Homo sapiens: one gene and its partner. The protein of the gene in region 1 interacts with the protein of each later gene in a biochemical or structural test. Each region holds a gene or a part of one and is shown in the gene's direction. Other genes may lie near its edges. The genes, in order: LCN1 and LMBR1L.

What was found.
Region 2: the proteins of LCN1 (region 1) and LMBR1L form a complex in vitro, tested with the Homo sapiens proteins (one study listed by BioGRID).

What each region holds. Positions count from the first base shown.
Region 1 is NC_000009.12:135,519,172-135,523,079, forward strand, and holds the start of LCN1 (lipocalin-1 isoform 1 precursor), read left to right. Parts: upstream 1-2,268; 5' UTR 2,269-2,326; coding exon 2,327-2,416; intron 2,417-2,875; coding exon 2,876-3,006; intron 3,007-3,908. UniProt on the Homo sapiens protein: Could play a role in taste reception. Could be necessary for the concentration and delivery of sapid molecules in the gustatory system.
Region 2 is NC_000012.12:49,104,213-49,108,120, reverse strand, and holds part of LMBR1L (protein LMBR1L), read left to right. Parts: intron 1-1,075; coding exon 1,076-1,160; exon of another isoform or gene 1,161-1,434; coding exon of another isoform or gene 1,435-1,576; intron 1,577-2,163; coding exon 2,164-2,197; intron 2,198-3,235; coding exon 3,236-3,375; intron 3,376-3,569; coding exon 3,570-3,673; exon of another isoform or gene 3,674-3,908. UniProt on the Homo sapiens protein: Plays an essential role in lymphocyte development by negatively regulating the canonical Wnt signaling pathway.

The sequences.
Region 1 (3,908 bases):
CAGAGTGCTGGTATTACAGGCATGAGCCACCACACTGGGCCTCAGTTGTTTTTTAATGTCCGAGATGTCTTTATTTTGCCTTCAATATTTTATGAAAGTTGCACTGAGAATAACATTCACAGGTAAATGTGATTTCTCCCGGGTCTGTTAAAGACGTCACTCCACTGTCTTCCGGAAGGCAGCGTTGCTATTGAGAGGTCTGCCATCAGTCCACATCCGCTTTTATGGTATGTAGTGTGGCTCTTCTTTCTGGTCATTTTGACTTTTTTTCTCCTTTCCTGGATGATCTGCATTTCACTGTAATATTCTAGGAGTGGATTTCTCAATTTTGATCATTCCTTGGTAATTTAGATCTGGGGTGTCATCTTCATGTCTTTTCAATTCTGAAGAATTCTGAGCTATTCTGTTGCTTTGTTGCCATTTTAGAAAATGTTTTTCTTTCAGAACTCCTATTCTGTTTATATTGGAACCTCCTGATCTATTCTCCATGTGTGTTAACTTTGTGCATGTGTGTGCATGTGTGTATGTGTGTGAGTGTGCATGTGTGTGTGTATGTGTGCATGTATGTGCATGTATGTATGAATGAATGGTGTGTGCACGCGTGTATGTCTGCGTGTGTATGTGGGTGTGCATGTGTATGGGTTTGTGTGCATTTGTATGTGTGCACATGTGTGTGTGTGCATGTGTGTGTGCGTGTGTGTGCATGTGTGTGTGTATATCTCTGTGTGTTGTGTTTTCAGAGCTGCTGCACTCTAGTTGGTTTCCTCCACTCATTTTATTACTAGCTCCAGGCTGGAGACTGAATCTATCTGTAACACCTCAATTTCTCTTTTGAATTTTTCTGCTTTCATTGATTTTGTTAGTACTATCTTCCATGACACTAAGTCTCTTTTCTACTATGTCAAGTCTGGAATTTAACCTGTCTATTGAGTTTTTTATTCACTTTATTATTCATCTTCAAGATTTGTAATTATTTCTATTTCGTCTCTCCTTATTTCTTATATTCTGGCCAGTTCTAATTTTATACTTTATATATTTTTAAATCACTAGGCATCTTGATCATACTCCTGCAGTTTTAAAGTGTGTGTCAGACTTTCCTTGGCTGGTGTAAGTTCCTGTACCAATTGCTCATTTTTAGCCTGCCTTTCTTAGTGTGGTGTTTCCTTGGGTAATTTGGAACCTGGCCTTTCTAGCTTATTTCAAGGTGAGGATATTGTGTCTCTGCATTTCTGCCTTTCTCTGCCATCTTGTTGTCACTGTCCTCTGTCTAGCAGTGTTTTGTAGCCTCTGCTCCCATCCCGGGTCCCAGGCTTCTGCTCTGCAGTGATGCAGAGCATGTCACAGATAAAGTCATCCTTTCCAAGGACGGCTTGTCTCAGCTTCTGCCCTTGAGGCTGTGTTGATGTCCTCTTGCCTTCCTATGCCCACAGTGCTCCACTAAGTTATACGAAGTTACAGCCCTGGGATGTGTCAAGGAGGGTTTCTCAGCCTTCTTTCTGGAGTCAGGGAAGCCCCTCCCATCACTCCCAGGAGCCGGACCTAGGCCCTCTCTGCCTGCCTTGGGACTTGGAGCTGACAGGCCCCTGCCTCTGCCCCATCACCAGCCTGTGCTTCTCCTCCATTCCTTGTTTTATGTGAGTGTGTGTGCGTTTGTGCATGTATATATGTACACACATGCATACACACACACACACCTGTCTTGGTCTTCTGTCTGTCTGACCTATTGCTGCTCTGTGTGTGGAGCAGAGAGGGTCGTTACTGCACACCTTGCTCAGGACAGTGGACACCGTCTTTAAATGCACACGGGATCGTGTTCACACAGGAGGGTCCCTTTTTTTCCATGATGAATCTGAGGCCAAGTAACCTGCCCAGAGATGCAGGAAGCTCAGCTGAGCCCCAAGCCCACGGCCCTCGGACTCCAACCCCAAACCCCCTTGACAGTGTGCACGTCAGCAAGTGTGGGATGGCTGGGGGGCATCTGTTACGGCTGCACACGTCCCCAGGAGGCCTGCACACCCTTCACTCCCTTCAGTTTCCCTTCAGGTGAAATCTGCAAATCTGCTCCTCTGGACCTGGTCCTGTCCAAGTGATCCTCTGGGATTAACAAGCTGTTATTCACCAGCCTCCAACAATAATGGCAGGTTATCTGCTCCATTGCAGAACTGGCAGTGGTTTACATCCAGGAAGGGATTGGTCAGTCTCCTGTGCCAGGTCCCTGGGGGACCCTGAGCCCAGCGGTATAAAGGGCGGCTGTGGGAGGACTGGTACAGCCTCTCCCAGCCCCAGCAAGCGACCTGTCAGGCGGCCGTGGACTCAGACTCCGGAGATGAAGCCCCTGCTCCTGGCCGTCAGCCTTGGCCTCATTGCTGCCCTGCAGGCCCACCACCTCCTGGCCTCAGACGAGGAGATTCAGGATGTGAGGCCCGGATGGGAAGGCTGGGCTGGAGGGGGCAAGGGGCGAGGCTGAGACTGGATGGAGACCCCATGCCTCCTCCATCCAAGGAGACCCTCGTTTTTGGGTTGGGCATTCAAGCCCTGCCCTGAGGGAATGGTGGGATGGGGCAGCAGGGGTCTGGGCTGGCAGGGTAGGTGGCGCAGGGGTGCAGAGTGGGCAGGGCTGGGAGGGTGGGGGTCTGGCTGACTTCACTTCTTCCCTGGGGATGAGGGCTCCTGTGGTCCTGGCTGGCTTGTGGGGGCTGGAGCCACCTTCAAGTGGGCCTGGCGAGGGTGCTGGGTGTTTTCTGGGTGGGTTAGATTGGGGAACGTTCCCCGTTTCCAGCCCTCGGGGTGCGGTAGAGTCTAGGGGCTGCAGGCCAGGGAAGGGGGAGGCTCTGGAGCAGTCGGCCTGAGCCTGATAGAGAGGGGCCTTCTCCAGGTGTCAGGGACGTGGTATCTGAAGGCCATGACGGTGGACAGGGAGTTCCCTGAGATGAATCTGGAATCGGTGACACCCATGACCCTCACGACCCTGGAAGGGGGCAACCTGGAAGCCAAGGTCACCATGCTGTGAGTGTCTGCCAGCCGGCCGGGCAGCCTGCAACCTGGTCTAGGGCCTTCCCTTTCCCCACCCAGGAGAGCTCTGGTGCTGGGGAGGTGGGCAGACCTGCTGGGAGGCCTCTCTCGGCCCCTCCTGCAATGCTTGAGGGCAAACTGTGCCACTGAGGTGCCTCGGCTGGAGGGGCCCTGAGGGGGCAGAGGCCCCGGATCAGACCCTGTGGGCTACCAGTGGCAGCCCTGGGTACCGCCCACTTCCTCCTCCGACTAGGGAATGTCTGGTGACGTGCAGGCCCCTTTGGGAAAAGGTGTTTACCCCCGACCAGAGTCAGAGCCAGTCCTGGCAGTAAATTTCTGCTTTGGAGAAGTGCAGGGATGGGGCTTGCAGAATGACCAAGAGGGGGCATAGGAGAAGACACCATGGAGAAGACCCCCTTGAAATCCCTGTGTAGCGCTCACCTGTGCGGCTCTCACCTGGGCTGCTTCCACCCGCGTGGCTCACATCTGTGACTTCCCACCTGTGTGATTTCACCCGCATGGCTCCCTCCTGAGTGGCATGCAGTGCCTGTGCTCCGGTCCTGGGGGCTGAATCTCAGGAAGTCACTGACCCTGGCAATGACCCCGATTTTTTTTTCCCCCAAAGCCCCTCACTGAACCTTTCCCTCTCTGGGCCAGATGATGATGGATATGGGGCTTGTGCCTGAATGTCTCTAAAAGGAAGAATGCAGCTGGCGGGATGAGGCTCAGGCCCACGCCACAGACGCTGCCTGCAAACCAGGCAGCCTGGGTGCCTCTGGCAGGAAATGTGTTGGGGGCGGGGGGTTTGGGAAGGCAGCCACCAGGAGGAGCGGTGCAGAGCTCCTGGCCATCTCGGGAGACCCCGGGAACTGCCGCATGGGACCCGGAGGGGCCGC
Region 2 (3,908 bases), on another chromosome or scaffold:
CAGCTAATTTTTGTTTTTTTAGTAGAGATGGGGTTCCACCATGTTGGTCAGGCTGGTCTTGAACTCCTGACCTCATGATCCTCCCACTGTGGCCTCCCAAAGTGCTGAGATTACAGGCGTGAGCCTCAACGCCCAGCCCAATTTTTGTATTTTTAATAGAGACGGGGTTTCACCATGTTGGCCAGGCTAGTCTTGAACTCCTGACCTCAAGTGATTCATCTGCCTCGGCCTCCCAAAGTGCTGGGATTACAGGTATGAGCCACAGTGCCTGGCGGAGACTCTCTGTTCTTGATTATAGAGCCAAGCTGGCCAATGGCTCCTCCTCTGGGCAGCAGCAGCTTACTTGGAGTAGAGTAGGAATGAATATGCAGATTAACCTGGCTGAGTTCCGCCATCACTGTCACTTGGCAGTCCAGCCAGCTCTAGAAACACTATAGATATTGGGCCCCAGCTAAAGCCCACTGTTAGGGGTAGAGGATTAAATGAGACTCTGGTTTGGCCCAGAGCAGACCTGATCTTTCAGGCCCCTGAATAAGCATGGAATAGAAGTTGTGACTTGGTCTAGAAACATGACACCTTCTTTGGGTCAAGGCAGCAGTGTGCATGGAGGTAGGAGGGTGGGGTAGCAATGGGGTGCCAGGACAATGCAGACGTCTTCCTCCCCTCAAACCTGCTTTCATTCCCAATAATGTGCTCGGAGTAAATTCCCTCTGGTTCTGTAGCTGGTTTGAAATGCGTGTGCATGTGCATTTCTAGGAGTTTTCTTTGCCCATTTACCAACCAGAGTTGGGCTGAAGCTATTTTCTCCCAATGAAGTCCTTGTAGGGCTGGGCATGTTGCTGTTTCCCCAGGTGCATGGGGCAGCCCCTGTCTGGCCCTTCTTTGAGGCCCCTGGGGCCCTGACTAGAAGGAAGTACCTGGGGGATCAGAACAGAACATACTTCCAGATGGAACCCTTGGAAGTATGGAGCCTTATCTTGAGGAAGTGATGGCCTGGAATTAACAGAGAGGCCCTTGGGGCTGTGGAGTGTGCTGAAGGTTAGAGCTTCTCATCCCAGCTCATATTCTGCTACAGATATCAACACTTCTGTTTGCAACACTGTACATCCTCTGCCACATCTTCCTGACCCGCTTCAAGAAGCCTGCTGAGTTCACCACAGGTACTTTGATTTCCCTCCCTCCTGCTAGAGTCCCTGTTGCCATGGACCAGCCTCAGGGGAATGGGCCTATGGTACCCACTGGGAAAGGAGCAGTGGCTGTGTGGGGCTGTTCTGGAGCCTTTGCCTCTTCAGCCTCCCTTTCTGCAAGATAGGGGCAAGGGCGGCTAGATGGATGTGTCTGCTGGGCAAGTCATATAACATTTCTGATCCTCAGTTTCATCCTACAAAATGGGCGTAACAATGTCTACCTACTCCATTGTGTGGACCAAAGGAGATGGTTAATGTGAAAGCCCTTTGTGAACCTGAAGTGAGCAACTGCTGGATGAATGTCATTACGGGCACAGGCTCTGTGTCATCTCCTCTCCTAGTGCTTCCACAGCCAGGACCAGAGACCTCCCTGATGACTGGGGAACCTGGTGATGGTGGCCTTTCTCTTTATGGGGAGCCTGAGTATGCTCAGATCGCAGCTTTCCTTCCCTAGACATTGTGTAATTGGGGGTGGGGGCACACTTGCCCCAGTTCCTAGCTCCAGCCTTTCCTCCTCTTAGGATGGCTCAGGATGAGTCCCCCCTCAACAAGGCAGCTACCCAAGAGTAATTCCCCTGGGGACTTTCTGTGTGAATCTCCCCTTCCCCCTCCTCTCTTTTCCCTTTCCTGGACCCAGCCACTGATGTAACCAACCTCACAGACTAGTTGTTTATTATATTAATAGTTTGAGCATATAAAGAGGAACTTGTGATGGGAGAGATCTAGGGAGGAGTAAAGAAGTATAGGAATGTCTGGCCTGTATTCTCTTCACCTGGGACCACTGATTTTTAAGCTGCCACCTTGGCTGGAGAACAGGCTATGGAGTTCATAATGTGTGGTCTCCTGGAGCCTCCTGTTCAGCTCTGCCTTCTTTGAGGGGGCAGGGATGGGGCAGGGAGCACATTGTAATACTAACGGCCTCAGAGCTGCCCCCTGATGTCCTCCTGCCTGTTCCCCGTGCCTCTGTCTCTTACAGTGGATGATGAAGATGCCACCGTCAACAAGATTGCGTAAGTGTCCCTGCCTCAGCACCTAACATCAGTGGTCTTTAGGAACTGGGATCTAGGGAGGCCTGGAGCTGGAGGGAGAAGGGGGAAGTCTCACACAGTGAAGAGAGAGTTTCTGTTTCCACCCCATTTCTGGCTTCCGGCTTTACCTCACCCTGGGGATGCTCAGAAAAGCTGCTGTTCCTGTCTTCCTGGTTAGGCCAGGAGCTTGTGGGAGCCTCATGGCCAGGAACGTCCGCTGGGGCCTGAGTCACCGGAAATGGCTCCAGCTTGGCTTCACCTCCCAGCGACCAATAGGGAGGGAGTGGAGTGGGGATGCACATTGATGGAAAAAGAGCAGGGTGTGGGGAAGGTGGGAACCCCTGAGGGAGGGGCATGCTTGGTTCTGGGAGAAAGGCCCATATTCCAGGCTGCCAGTGTTCACTGGTACATACAGAAAAAGATAGAGATATGACTCCTTTGAGTCAATAGATCAGAAGGCAGCCCTCCACCCTTGATGGACCAAAGAGCTAGAAGTGCCCATCTTCAATATATGCAGCCCGGGGCATAGACCTTGGCTATGAAGCTAGGTTTCAGTTCCCTCTTGTCCTCCTTTGCCCTCATGCCTTTGTGCAGGGCATAGCCATATGGGATGACCCTGTGCTTATCTGGGCTAAAAGAGGTAAGCTCAGAAATCCATATCCCTGACCAAAGAAGAGAAGCCAGGTCCCCTAGTTTTGGCATCATACCTGGCATAACTGATAGGCATGTATGGGAGGACCACATTCCTGGGGACAGCCTGGGTATGTGACATGGCAGGTGACCAGGTTCCCATGAATGCCCGAGGCTGTGCCCATCCCATGAGCTGGGGCTTCCCTGGAGGTAAAGAGCTAGGGTGGGGTGGCAGTGGGTAGAACCCCAGCTGGACAGCTCCTTCCTTAGCTCTGTGATTGCTACAGCTGGTTCTGGAAGCCACAGGCGCCCTCAGGACAAATGGGGCTTCTTCAGCACAGGGTAGTGAGTGCTGAGCTAAGCAAGGACACTGTCCCCTTCTCTGCCCAGGCTCGAGCTGTGCACCTTTACCCTGGCAATTGCCCTGGGTGCTGTCCTGCTCCTGCCCTTCTCCATCATCAGCAATGAGGTGCTGCTCTCCCTGCCTCGGAACTACTACATCCAGTGGCTCAACGGCTCCCTCATCCATGGTGTGTGGCTCCTGGAAGCTGCTTGGGGTAGGGATAGGGAGCAGAGAGCAGATAGAGTTGGGTGGACTCAGGCAGCCGTGCGCCAAGCAGTCATATGTCGCACCTTCCCACTCTGCTTCTCCTGCAAATGGTCAGTCTCCTGTGGGTTGCCCCTCCCCTTACTGACCACTTCTGCTCTTCCTTTTTTGCTCTAGGCCTCTGGAACCTTGTTTTTCTCTTCTCCAACCTGTCCCTCATCTTCCTCATGCCCTTTGCATATTTCTTCACTGAGTCTGAGGGCTTTGCTGGCTCCAGAAAGGTAAGTAGGGGATATGTATCCAGGCAGGAAACGGAATTCCACACACATGGTTCAGCTGAAGAGATTTTAATAAAGAGGCTATTTGCAGAGGTTTAGTTAACGGAAGTTTGAGGCTCTAGTGACAGTAGGAAGTCATTACCACCCTTAGGCCTGTAGGGACAAAGGGAGGAAATGGTTTCTAGAACCCACTAATAGCTGAAGCCAGGGATGTGAAGCTGCCCAGAGAGGAGCTGTT